Regions from separate parts of the Homo sapiens genome. Here regions 1 and 3 are each linked to region 2. Evidence: fine-mapped expression QTL. A gene starts in region 2. Each other region holds a variant in brackets. All regions are shown on one strand. Distances are between the middles of the regions.

Region 1 (4,000 bases), 99 kb before region 2:
TGATGCAACACAAAAAAGATGGAGCCATTAGTCCAATAACCTTATTAAAAAAATTCCTCCTCTGGGTGTGGTGGCTCACGCCTGTAATCCCAGCTACTCCGGAGGCTGAGGCAGGAGAATTGCTGGAACCTCGGAGGTGGAGGTTGCAGTGAGCTGAGATTGTACCTCTGCACTCCAGCCTGGGCAACAAAGTGAGACTCCATCTCAAAAAAAAAACAAAAAACACAACTCCTCTGTATCTAACCTTCTTATCAAAAGTGTGAAACAGATGGTGTATGTGATGATCATGATAATGAACATAATAACAATGTGAACATAATAACAATGTGAACATAATAACAACAACATCTCTTTATTCCTCAGATAACATCCAGAGCAGGAACTCTGGAGTCAGGCAGAACTGAATGTGACTTTAAGCAAGTTACTCAATTTTTGTAGGCCCAACTTTCCTATCTGTCAGGCCTACAAATGGGAAAAACTAAACCATAAGGAATCTAAGAGTTTTGTTTATTCCAAAGAGTACAGGATACAATGACCTTTCTTTTTTTTTCTGTCACCCAGGCTGGAGTGCCATGGTGCAATCTCGGCTCACTACAACCTCTGCCTCCTGGGTTCCAGCGATTATCCTGTCTCAGCTTCCCAAGTAGCTGGGACTACAGGCATGTGCCACCATGCCCAGCTAATTTTTATCTTTTTAATAGAAATGGGTTTCACCATGTTGGCCAGGCTAGTCTCCAACTCCTGACCTCAGGTGATCTGCCTGCCTCGGCCTCCCAAAGTGCTGGGATTACAGGCGTGAGCCACCGCGCCTGGCCAATGACATTCCAAAAAGGTACTATCAGGACATCAAGTACTACAAAATAGGCACCGGAAGAAATATGCTAAATTAGTAATCCTCAAACTCTAGAGTAATAAGTATAACCTGGCTTGCTAGAACAGATTACTGGGCACTATCCTCAGAGTTTCTCAATCAGTAGTTTTGGAGTAGACCAAAGAATCTGCATTTCTAACAGGCTCCCATAAGATACAGATGCTGTTGGTCACAAGACCATACTTTGTGTCTCCTTGGAAAGGGAGAAAATAAATATTTATTGACAGGGAAGGGAAGAACAATTATTTAAGATGATCTTGGGTCAAGCATGGTTAAGTGTTTACATAGTTTATCTTATTTAGTCCTTACAACATCCCAATGAGCAACAGTTCTCAAACTTTTCCAGGCCAAAGGAGAATGAACACATCACAAAAGAGTATGCCTAAGCAGTCTTCTAGAAATAGAAAATTTCTTTGATGACTGTATTACTTTAAAAATTCATATAAATTTTGTATTCTGTTTCAAAATACTGCTGCTAGTTATGAATGAAATATAAATCTAAAAATATTTATCAGATAAATTGCTTAACTCTTCATTGCAATTCTTTAGTAAAATTGGCCTGTGGGAATATAAAGAAATGGGTGGTTGAACTCTGGTAATGAGCTTATGGTGAAACAGCTAGTACATATTTATTTGATCCAGCATTTGAACCTAGGCCAGAAGATCTCTAAAGACAATGCACATGTTACTACCTTACTCTGTCATTGACCTCCACCTACATAAAAGGCCTATCATGTTTTTCTCTACTGCTCTTTTACGATCTTCTATTGTTCTGGTTAAAGAGGACTACTTGCTGTTCCTCAGATTTTTCTCAAAATTTTTTTTTCTTTTTCCTTAGATTCAGGGACAGACAGGGTCTTACTCTTCCTGATCTCCAGATTACTCTTTGTAGCTGGAAAGCTCCTCCGCTTTCATCTCTACTTTACTAGAATCTTACCATCCCCTTTAAGGCCCAGCTAAAATGTCACTTTCTTTCAGAAGACCAAATACCATTATTGATTGATTGATTGACTGACTGAGACAAGGCCTCACTCCTGTTGCCCAGGCTGGTGCAGTGATGTGATCATGGCTCACTGCAGCCTTGACTTCTGGGGCTCTGGTGCATCCTCTCACTTCAGTCCCCTGAGTAGCTGGGACTACAGACACATGCTACCATGCCCAGCTAATGCAAATATCATTTTTAAAAGGCGACTGAACTGGACGCCTCATATGAGCTCCCATGGCTGCCCAGACATGCTTTCATGTCAGTGATTATATAATTTTTTTTGTAAATTAGCTTATGCAAATAATCTTGTGGACCCTAACTTATACATGCTTCTGCAAAGAAACATGTTTAACGATAAAGTTATAC[T/G]GGAATTCAAAACATGATGTTTTATGGAATGTAAGACATTGGGGTATAGATAAAAAGTGGTTGGAAAAAATATATATATTTATTTTTAGAGATGAGGTCTCCTTCTGTCATCTAGGTTGGAATGCAGTGGCATCATCATAGTTCACTGCAGTCTCAAATTCCTGGGCTCAAATGATCCTCCCACCTTGGTCTCCTGAATAGCTGGGACTACAGGTGCATGCCATCATGCCTGGCTAATTAAAAACAAAATTTATTTATTTATTTTTGAGACAGAATCTTGCTCTTTTGCCCATGCTGGAGTGTAGAGGTATGATCTTGGCTCAATGCAGCCTCAACGTCCTGAGTTGAGCGGAGGACCCCGGGCTCCAGTGATCCTTCCACCTCAGCCTCCCAAGCAGCAGGGACTACAGACATATGCCACCCAGCCCAGTTAATTTTGTTCACTTTTTGTAGAGATGAGGTATCACTATGTTGCCCAGGCTGGTCTTGAACTCCCGGACTCAAGTGATCCTCTTGCTTTGGCCTCCCAAAGTGCTGGGGTTACAGGCGTAAGCCACCGTGCCTGACCTGGAAAATTGTATTTAAAAGAAATTCTTGGCCAGGGGCAATGGCTTATGCCTGTAATCTCAGCACTTTGGGAGGCTGAGGCTGGTGGATTGCTTGAGCTCAGGAGTTTGAGACCACCCTGGGCAACACGGTAAAACCCTGTTTCTACAAAAAATACAGAAAAAATTAGCCAGGCATGGTGGCTCACGCCTGTAGTTCCAGCTACTCAGGAGGCTGAGGCTAGAGAATTGCTTGATCTGGGAAGCAGACGTTGCAGTGAGCTGAGATTGCACCACTGCACTCCAGCCTGAATGACAGAGTAACACCATGTCTCAAAAAAAAAAAAAAAAAAAAAGAAAGAAAGAAAAAGAAATTCCCAAACGGGAAGGTTTAGATTATGATGAAATTTGTGGCTATGAACTAGAATAAAGTCTAAACATGTAGAAGTAATATACCTAGACTTTTAAAATTGGAAGGGTCCTTGAAAGTCATTTAGGACAGTCTCCCTATTTTATAGCAGTAGAATTTTTGGACCCTGCTTTGTATTATGGTCAGAAGTCTCTTTGTTTCATTAATGCTGCTTAATTTTCATCTAGCTTACCTTTGGTCTCTTTATATTGTGATTCCAGTGCTACCTGAAGAAAGCTTTCTGCACTGAATAATGGATTTTTTTCTGAAGGGCCAGACCTGACTTTGGTCCAAAGGGAACTAAACTGCAGGACCTCCTTTGATTTTAAAGGTCGCTAACTTTAGTGATGCTAATTCTGAACCTCTGAGGGATGAATTGTTACCCCCAGCTGCAATTTTTGATCAGTCTAACAGCCAAGCCACCATCATGGCCAAGACTAGGGAACACTCACAGTAAGCAGGGTGGCCATCTGCTCCATTTGGCCAGCTCTAGCTTTGGACACTGAGAGGTGGCTCATATACTGATTGCATCTTGGTTTAACCACTGAGAGTGAAAAGAGAAAAGGACACCAAGGGCATTTATCTTTTCCAGCCCCACATGCTCCTCCCAATCTCAGCGGTAAAGAGCAGGAACTCTGGAGTCAGGCAGAACTCAGTGTGACTTACTCAATCTTTGTAGGGCTGACTTTCCTATCTGTACCAGGAGATCTTAACAGCACTATAATTACCTCACGGGTAACTGGCAGGTTTAGGTGGGGAACTGCCTGTTGACCATTTAGGACAATGTCTGGTACACAGAAAATCCTTAATAAATGCCAGCTATT
Region 2 (4,127 bases):
TCTCAAATTCCTGGGCTCAAGTGCTTCTTTCGCCTCAGCCTCCCAAAGTGCTGGGACTACAGACATGAGCTACTGCGCCCAGCCTTAGAAAACTTTAATTAAAAAACAAAAAGTCTTACAACTATTATGTATCCATAATAATTAAAAATTTTAAAATTAAAAAATAAAGTTCAAAAATTTATGTCATTTTGATATAAATAAAATTTAAATCAAAAGATAATGTGCTCTTTTTATTTTTATTTATTATTTACTTATTTTTGAGATGGGGTCTTGCTATGTTGCTTAGGCTGGCCTTGAACCCTGGGCTCCAGCCCTCTGATCCTCCAGCCTCAGTCTCCTGACTATACTGCTGGGACTGCAAGCTTGCATCACTCCATCAAGTACTGTTTTTAAAATGTCCTTATTCTGAATAAGGCTTTGGCGTTAGAAGTTTTGTAATAGCTCTTCCAAGGTAAGTGTGAACGGTGACTTAATCTTTTGTTATTATTTGTGTCCAGCTTCCTCACCTGATAGAGCAGGCACTCAACAAATACATGATGACATATTTTTAACAACCAATATGTGCGTCCCTGCCCCTGGCTCCATAGATTTGCAAGATTTGTGTGTCCATTCATAAGCCTTCCAAACGCAGGGCCTGCTTGCTGCCCTCTTTGCTCTGTGGGGCCCAGATGGCAGCCCCGGAGGCGCTGGTGGGAGGCTGTGTCCTGGGGTCCACCACTGCTCCCCGGTAAGCCAAGCCCGACTGCCCCTACATGGAAAATTCATCCCTCCTCCAGATGGGGGATTCAGGGCACCGCCACTTCCCACAACCCCGGGAATCTCCCTGGCCACAGTCCTGGCGGGACCCCCCCCATCCCCAGCTCACTGTGACAGAGTCCCCTGCACAGTCCTGGGACGGCTCCAGGTCGAAGTCCTGGAAGACGAGCCTCACAGCAAAGCCCTCTGGAGCCTTGATGTCCGTGCTGCTCTCTTGGCCTTTGCCATACGGCTCTGGGTACCCGGGGGATGTCAGCTGCTGGGGTAGCTCTTGGGCCAAGAGGACGGAGCCCCGGGTTGGGCAAGCCTGGAGGACTCCCCAGAGAAGCAGCCACCACCTGTGAGTTGGGGGGAGGGCAAGGTGGGGCCGCGCAGCTATGGCCGGAAGCCTGTGGGTGTGGGAGGAGCGGGGGAGCCGCGCTAGGACTCAGAGGCCTCGCGAGGCAGGGCTAGAAGCTGTGGCCTCACCCTTGAGGCCCGGGCACTTCCCGTCTCCTCCCTTGCTCCCCTTCCTCACCCCAATCCCTACAGCCTCCCGCGCAGCCTGAGCTCTAGGATTGTGGGTTTTCCATCCTCCGAAGACATCACCTTTGCTCATCTCCCAGGAGAGTCTCGTCCAAAGGAGGGGGGTGCTTTCTGCTTCAGCAGATCCCACCCCACCCTGGGATCCGAGGGAGCAATGGTGGGGCGAGTGAGGGTCTGCCGTAAATATCCCCCGACCACCCTCTGGGAAGGTGCTAGAGGCCACAGGCAAATTTCAGTCTCCCCATGGAATATCTGCTGTGCTGCTGCTGCTGCTGCTGCTGGTGTGTGTATGTGGGGGAGGTGTGTGTGTGTGTGTGTGTGTGGGGGGGGGGGGGATGTGTGTGTGGGGGGGGTAGGGTGGGGGGAGGGAGGGTTTGCGGCCACCCACCCTTTCTCTTCCCCTCCCGTCCTCTTCCCTCCTCCTCTGCCGGGGCCACACTCACATTGCGCCTGGACAGCCTTTGGAGTGAGGGCTTCTCCAGAGATATTTCCCCCACACTCTGGGTCCAGGCATCTGGAACTGGACATCTGGGACCTGCGAGAGAACTGGCCCAGGATAGGGAACAAAAGGTGAAGGCCGGTGGGGGAGGAGGAAGTTCCTGGAAATGTTAAGCAACTCCACAGTTCCCCTTCTCCAATTCTCCGGGCTGAGCGCCACCTGCCGTCTGACTCAGGAACAGCGGGCCCGCCGCAGCTTAGGGGAGAAACGTCCAAAAACCTCGCTGGCCCTCAGAGGTCAGGGTGGCAGGGCACTGACTCGACCCTTTTGTACTATTTAACATTAATTTTTGCCATGTGTGTAGGATGGCTCCTTGTGAGTTATGGCTGCTGCCTTCAATCAGCCATGTCTCTTCCTCCCCGACCTTTCCGTTCACGACATACCCGGGGAGCCTCCCTCTTGTAGAATTGAAGTTTGTGATCCTTGAACTTGAGCTTTCTCTTCCTTTCCCTCCTCCCCAAGCAGGGGTGGGGGACATGCGCTTAGGTGGTCTTTTGAATCCTATTCACAACCTCTGGAGGCTGCTTGTCCAGCATGGTCAGGGCTGGGGTCGAGCCCAGGTGTCCCTCAGTCCCTAGTCCCAGTCATCACTCAAGCCGTCACTCAAGCTTCTTTAGGCAGATACTAGAGCCCCTGCCTGCTCTCACCGCTCCCCGAGGAAGGACACTCACCCACAGCTTGGTAGGAGGCCAGAAGGCTCTTATGGAGATGGGTGGTCCCATCCTCAGAGAAGGCAGGTGTGTGGAAGGCCTTACGTTGTATGCACACACAAATGCATGTGCGCGCGCACACACACCTCTCAGAGAAGAATCTATTGCTTCCCCCATTTTGCATATAGTAATATGGAGGCAAGTTACAGACCCAAACAGGGTGTGCTCTGCATCTTTGGTTTTTCTAGGCTAGAGAGATTTAGGAGAGCCACAGTCTATGGCTACAAGGAGATGATAAGAGAGTGATGGCCAGGACAGATGCAATGTCTCAGGTACAGTCTTGAGATCAAGCCTACCTGTCTGCCACACCCCAACCCCAAACACAACTGGGGATGATCTCCCATACCCATCTTCGAGGAGTGGGCCTCTCTGACTAGGACTTCTTTCCTCCCCTGAGACCACTGAAACCTGCTCTCTCATAGAACTCTTAGGGTCACCTGGAGCACCTTGGGAGCCAGAGATGCAGCCAAAGAGTGAACAATGGTACCAATCCCAAGACCCATGTGTTAAGAAGAAACCAGCCAAGACTCAGATCAGGATTGGGGAGTCCACCCCTCGTTTCCCTTCAGAGCATTATTTCCTTGTTTGCTAAGAGGGGCAGGAACTGGAAAACTCAGGCTAGCCCATCTGAGAAGACTTTCCTGGAGATGAGCTGGAGGAGGGAGGAGTAAGGCCTTGGAAGGAAACTCCAGGACAGGTAGGGTGACCGACTGTTCTGATTTGCGTGGGACCGACGGGTTTCCCAGGACATGAGGCTTTCCGTTTTAAAATGAGGGAAGTTCTGGGCAAGCCAGGACTGGTGGTCACCCTAAATGGATAGGGGTTAAAGTGCTGGAGTGAGGCTGGGTGAGAAAGAGGACAGGGAGCCAAGAGGGTGGGGAGGCAGTGATGCACCGGCAGCCCCAGGTGACTGGGCAGTCCAGGGTCTGGATGTGGTCCCTGTTTGGGGTAATCCAGCACTCTGAAGATGAGGGCCCACCTTGGTCTCACCTAGGTGGCGTGTGCGGCTGCAGCATGAGTTAGGGTCAAGGGCAAGGGGAGGAATGGCTGGTGATGTGAGACTGGAGAAGGAGCTGATGGCTCTGTGCATAGCTGGTCACTGCAGGCCCCTGTGGGCTAGGGCTGAGCTGTGCCCCGCTGTGTTTTCAGCACCACCTCCCCTACACTGGGACCTCGTCTCTAACTGGCAGAGTGGTCAATGAAAAAAAGGGCATGCCTTGGCACATCATGGTCAAACTGCTAAAAGCCAAAGACAAGAGAAAATCTTTTCTTTTTTTTAATCCCATCCTAAAGACTAGACAGAACAATATTTTCAATGTCACTCTTTTCTCATCAAAACCAATATAGACCAGAAGACAGTGGAATATCTCTAAAATGCTGAAGGAAAAAAAAAGTCAACTCAGAATTGTTTTTCTAGTGAAAGTATTCTTCCAGAATGAAGATGAAATAAAGCTATTTTCAGATAAAAGAAAACAGAGATTCTTGTCGCCAGCAGACCTCCACTATGAGAAGCGCTAAAGAAAGTTCTTTAGGACGGGCACGATAGCTCACGCCTATAATCCCAGCATTTTGGGAGGCCAAGGTGGGAGGATTGCTTGAGCTCGGAAGATGGAGGCTGCAGTGAGCCATGACGGTGC
Region 3 (4,147 bases), 21 kb after region 2:
GTACCTGGCATTTTCGTCCGTCCACGCTCCTGAGGTCCTCCTCAAACTCCACTCCCACATCAAACTGCACAGTGTAGTTTCGGAAGGTGCTGAGCGTCCTCACCGTCATGTGGTTGCCCTGGTGTTCGATCTCCTTGTCCGGCTTCAGCAGCAGCGCGATCTTCCGCACAGCCAAGCTGATGTCTGTGGGGGCTGCCTGTTAGTAGGGGTGCTGCTAGCCAGCCAGGAGCTCCTCTGCCTGCAGCAGCCCCTCAGGGCTGTGAGTTTCCCTTCTTTGGGTCTGGGACTGTGGATTCACCCCCTCCTACCAATGCCTGGTTAGAAATGGATCCCAGGTCTGGTGCCAGCCGCCTGAGCCTTTCCACAGTGTCCAACCCCGGGCATTCCCTCTTCTCCATGGGACCAAGAAGCAGGAAGGAAGAGGGGAGAAAGGGAGTGACAGGGGTCTGGGAGGGCGAGGCCATTACTTAGGGCTTGCAGGTAGTCCTCCATGTTCTTCTGCGAGACAAAGCGGTAGTAGCCAGTGAGGTTGGGAGGCATTGTGTGGATGAAGGTTTCAGGAGAATGCAGGAGACAGGGTGAGGAAGGAGGGGGTGTTGTCTGGCAGGTGAGGCTGAGAGATTCCAGCCAGCTCCACACACAGAGACAGGATGTGTAATGGCCGGGTTACCAGGGCTTTTTATAAGGCTGGGGCCCTGTTGCAATAAGAGTCCCTACCAGACTTCTTCCCTCCCCGCATGGTGAGTTTGGGGGTGGTGTCTCCAGCCTGAAGGAGGGGCAGGGATTTGGCAAAGTTGCGCCTGACCTTGGCTTTTCCTGAGGAAGGAACCTGGAGCAGGATCCTTCCTGAGGAAGGAACCTGGAGCAGGATCTGGGGCTGTCAGTCATCCAAAACTCAGCCATCCAAAGGTCAGTGTTGGCCTCCACCTCATTTCTGGCAGGCTTGGGAACCGTCCCAGGGCCTGAGGGGCAGTCTTTCCTGGGAGACACCTGAGGCTGGTCTGGCTGTGTGAGGTGGAGATGAGTTCCAACAATATCCTGAGATCCTGGGACTGAGTGATGTTGGAAGATGTGAGGGGAGGGGGTGAGGATGGCCAGCTGCCACCATGAAGAGCACCCTGTAGGCCTGGCTCTCAGAGCTCCCTCAGGTAGTGTGCTCAACTGGGACCCCAAAGTGGCATTCCAGACTCTTGGTCCTAAAGAGCCATTAGGAGGGAGGTGGAGCCCGAGGGGTGCTGAGTTCAAAGTCCGGAACAGACAGCCTGAGAGGAGTTTGTTGGCTATTCTGGAGAATTTTATTCTTTTTGGCTTGGGACCCAGGGGGTTTTCTCTCCCTCTGAGTCATCGATGAGACCGTAACCCCCAGTCCCCAGCCCTAGGACAGCCCATGCTTTCCAGATGTATTTCTGTGAAGGTGGGGTGGAGGCGCCTAAATAATATTGTGCCCCGCCCCCAGCTGCCCAATTCTCTCTCGAACCTGCCATCGTCCCGGGCTTCAGAATCCACTGGGCTTGGTTCATCATGGTTTAAGGTGAAATTCGGGGCGAAGGAGGCAGGACAGGTAGGCAGGAGGAGGCGGCCGGTCCCGACAGGTGCGTGCGCGAGGGGTGCACGACGTCCTGCCCCTCCTTG[G/A]GTCCCAGAGCCTCGATACCGCCCTGCGGACCGCCCTGTGGCTTCCTCGCAGCCCTGGGCTACAAATGCCAGGATTTCTCAGGCTCAGACTGAGGGTTTTACTTCACCCTTCCCAGAGGGCACGCAGCACGGATCTGTGGATGGAAGGGGCTGTGGAAACAGGTTATGGCAGAGTTGGGGGGCGGGGTGACGCGGTGCCACCCCTCCTGGCCGCCCTCAGGTCCCGCTGACGTCTCTCTTCCCCACCCCCTGGCTTCTGGCTTCTTTCTCCCCACGTCCCTCTTCTTTCCCACCCCCTCCGTGGCTCTCCAGCTTCCTCCCCAGCCCCCGCAGTTCCTCGGCTCCCCCAAAATTGCAGCCAGGGGAAGGAGCCTTGAAACTCTCCAGCCCCGACGCCCCAGTCTCATTGGCTCCCTCCCCCGCTGCAGCACCTGGTCCCCCCCCCTCCCAGTCACCTGATTGGCCGGCGGCCCCATCAATCGTTGCCCGGCTGTGCTGACGTCATCCTGCAGTAGCGGGGTTGGGGTGGGAGTGAGAGAGTGAGGACGCTGGGCTGGGGGAAACGGGAAGCCGCTGCAAGTCCACCGCCTCAGCTACCCAGATTGGGATCTGCCCAGGCCCGCTTTATGGACTAGTGTGGGCGGCAGGCTCCTTTCCGTCCCTGCCCTGCTGTACCCCGCTCCTTGGAGACCCCCTGTATCCCTCCCGCAAGGTGGAATCCGCAGGCTGGAGGCTCCCAGGGGAGGCAAACGCCTGGCCCTGCCCTGCCCCACGCCGCACCATGACCCTCCTGCTGCTGCCCCTTCTGCTGGCCTCTCTGCTCGCGTCCTGCTCCTGTAACAAAGGTGAGTGAGGTGGGGGTGGGGGTACCGAAAGAGGGGCGTCGGGCAGCGCCGTGCGGGGTGGGGGTGGGAAGGAGGTGTCGAGGCTCCCTGGCACCTGACAGGTGTCTGGCCCTCTTCTGATCACCCTCCTTCCCATCCGTTCTCAGACCTGCTCCGTCTCCTCTCTTTCTCTTCCCCCAGCTACATCTTCCTTTCTGGTCCATCTCTACCCATGCGTTTCTCTTGCTGGTCATCTTGCTCCCATTTGGTCTCCATTCCCGTCCTGGGGTCTCTATTCTCCCCTTCCCCTAATTTCTACACGCTGGTGGCTACCTCGGGTCTGGGAAGGACTGCCCCCGAGCCGGTGATAGGCCTCTCCCCGCGGCTCTCCCTTTCACTGGCGCATGCTAAGGGTGTGTGGCAGATCCATCTGCTTCGCCTCCATCCCATCCTGGGGAGAAAGTATTTGCTGCAGTTCAGCAATTCGGAGCACGTATGTTTTTTGCGTGTGCCTCTGCATTCAGACCCTTTTGCCTGCATCAGCTGGGCTGTGGGTTACCAGAGCTGCCCTCTCTGGCAGACAGCGGATACATTCAGCTGGGCGGGGCTGTCGGACAGACGGAGAGGGAGGACGGGAGGGAGGGCTTGCGGGCAGAGGGCTCAGGTAGGTGGAAACGGATGGAGACTGGCAGGAAAGGGCAGAAGTGGGTGTGTGGGGGGCGCTAAATGAGTATGAGAGGGAAAGCTGAGAAGGAGAAGACCGGAGATGAGGCGTGGGAGGGGGTAAGGAGGGGATGGAAAAGGGTAAAGGTGGAGGCAGAAAAAAGAGGGAGGAATGAGGAAAATCAGGAAAAGAGTGAGTCAAGGAGGAGCCCGGGAGCCTAGGAGTGAAAGGGAGCAAACGCAGAGACCGCAGGGGGCCAGGAGGAGAGGAGACAGAGGCTCAGAGACCTGGGAAGACAAGCAGGGTGGGAGGGGGAGCTGTGCAGAGGGCGCCCAGCCCTGCCCTTCCACCGCTCTCTCTTCCTTGCCTGCATCTCTGACCTCAGCCTCGCCTCCTAGCCTCCTGCCACTTCCTGTACCGCCTCCTGTGCACCATCTTGTGGCTTTCTCCTCAGCATTCAGGAAGGGGTTATGGTGGTCATCAGTAAGAAAGCCTTCCCATGCCAAAGGCTTGCTGGTGTGTGGTTGGAGGAAAGAATGGAAATCAGGGTTTCTTGCTCACCGTGAGATACTGGGGATGAGGTTCCTTTTGGTGACTCAGTTTCCCTCTGCCTCATGATTGTGCTTTGGGAGCCTGGGTGTTGGCATGATGATGGGATTAGAGCAAGCGTGGAGGCTGGGGTGGGGGGTGATGTGGAAGGGGAGGAAATATGCTTCCCCACAGCCCCTCACCAGGCTGAATCTGGTAGAAGATGGGGAGATTTGGAGTCTGATGAGTCCCGCATCCATTCTGAATTGGCTGGTGGTTGAAGGGAAGAGGGATGGGGTAGATAAGAACTGGGATTGAGTTCTGTATAAAAAGTGGGTTTCAGGGAATGTGGTTTGATGGTCTTGTGGAGGACATAGAAATGTGTCGGTTTCGAATGTGTTCTCTTGGGTGTGGGGGTGGGAAGCAGGGACGGGATTTGTCATGTTTCTAGGCCAGCCCGATAATCCCTTAGGATGACGGCTCTGCTGGGTCCAGTTGC

Evidence for each region. PIP is the estimated chance that this variant, and not a neighbour inherited with it, causes the effect.
Region 1: its variant is fine-mapped to the expression of C1RL in whole blood (TOPMed, PIP above 0.99).
Region 3: its variant is fine-mapped to the expression of C1RL in whole blood (INTERVAL, PIP above 0.99).

Annotation. Positions count from the first base shown.
Region 1 is chr12:7,008,546-7,012,545 of GRCh38, forward strand. All of the region lies in intron 1 of LPCAT3 (lysophosphatidylcholine acyltransferase 3), which reads right to left. Among named protein-coding and RNA genes, the nearest start is that of LPCAT3, 7.9 kb to the right of the region's middle. The variant T/G (reference allele first, on the strand shown) is at 2,223.
Region 2 is chr12:7,107,386-7,111,512 of GRCh38, forward strand. C1RL (complement C1r subcomponent like) reads right to left here and starts at 1,829. Exons shown (of 6, transcript NM_016546.4): 1 at 1,725-1,829; 2 at 866-1,094. The coding sequence starts at 1,795. C1RL-AS1 (C1RL antisense RNA 1) reads left to right here and starts at 923. Exons shown (of 12, transcript NR_026947.1): 1 at 923-1,096; 2 at 1,288-1,562; 3 at 2,679-2,762; 4 at 2,913-3,187; 5 at 3,640-4,127. RefSeq lists enhancers at 849-2,048, 881-1,050, 1,691-1,770.
Region 3 is chr12:7,128,236-7,132,382 of GRCh38, forward strand. RBP5 (retinol binding protein 5) reads right to left here and starts at 654. Exons shown (of 4, transcript NM_031491.4): 1 at 468-654; 2 at 5-183. The coding sequence starts at 540. It overlaps CLSTN3 (calsyntenin 3), which reads left to right and starts at 2,136. Exons shown (of 18, transcript NM_014718.4): 1 at 2,136-2,477. The coding sequence starts at 2,414. RefSeq lists silencers at 1,893-1,992, 3,083-3,152 and an enhancer at 2,434-2,935. The variant G/A (reference allele first, on the strand shown) is at 1,633.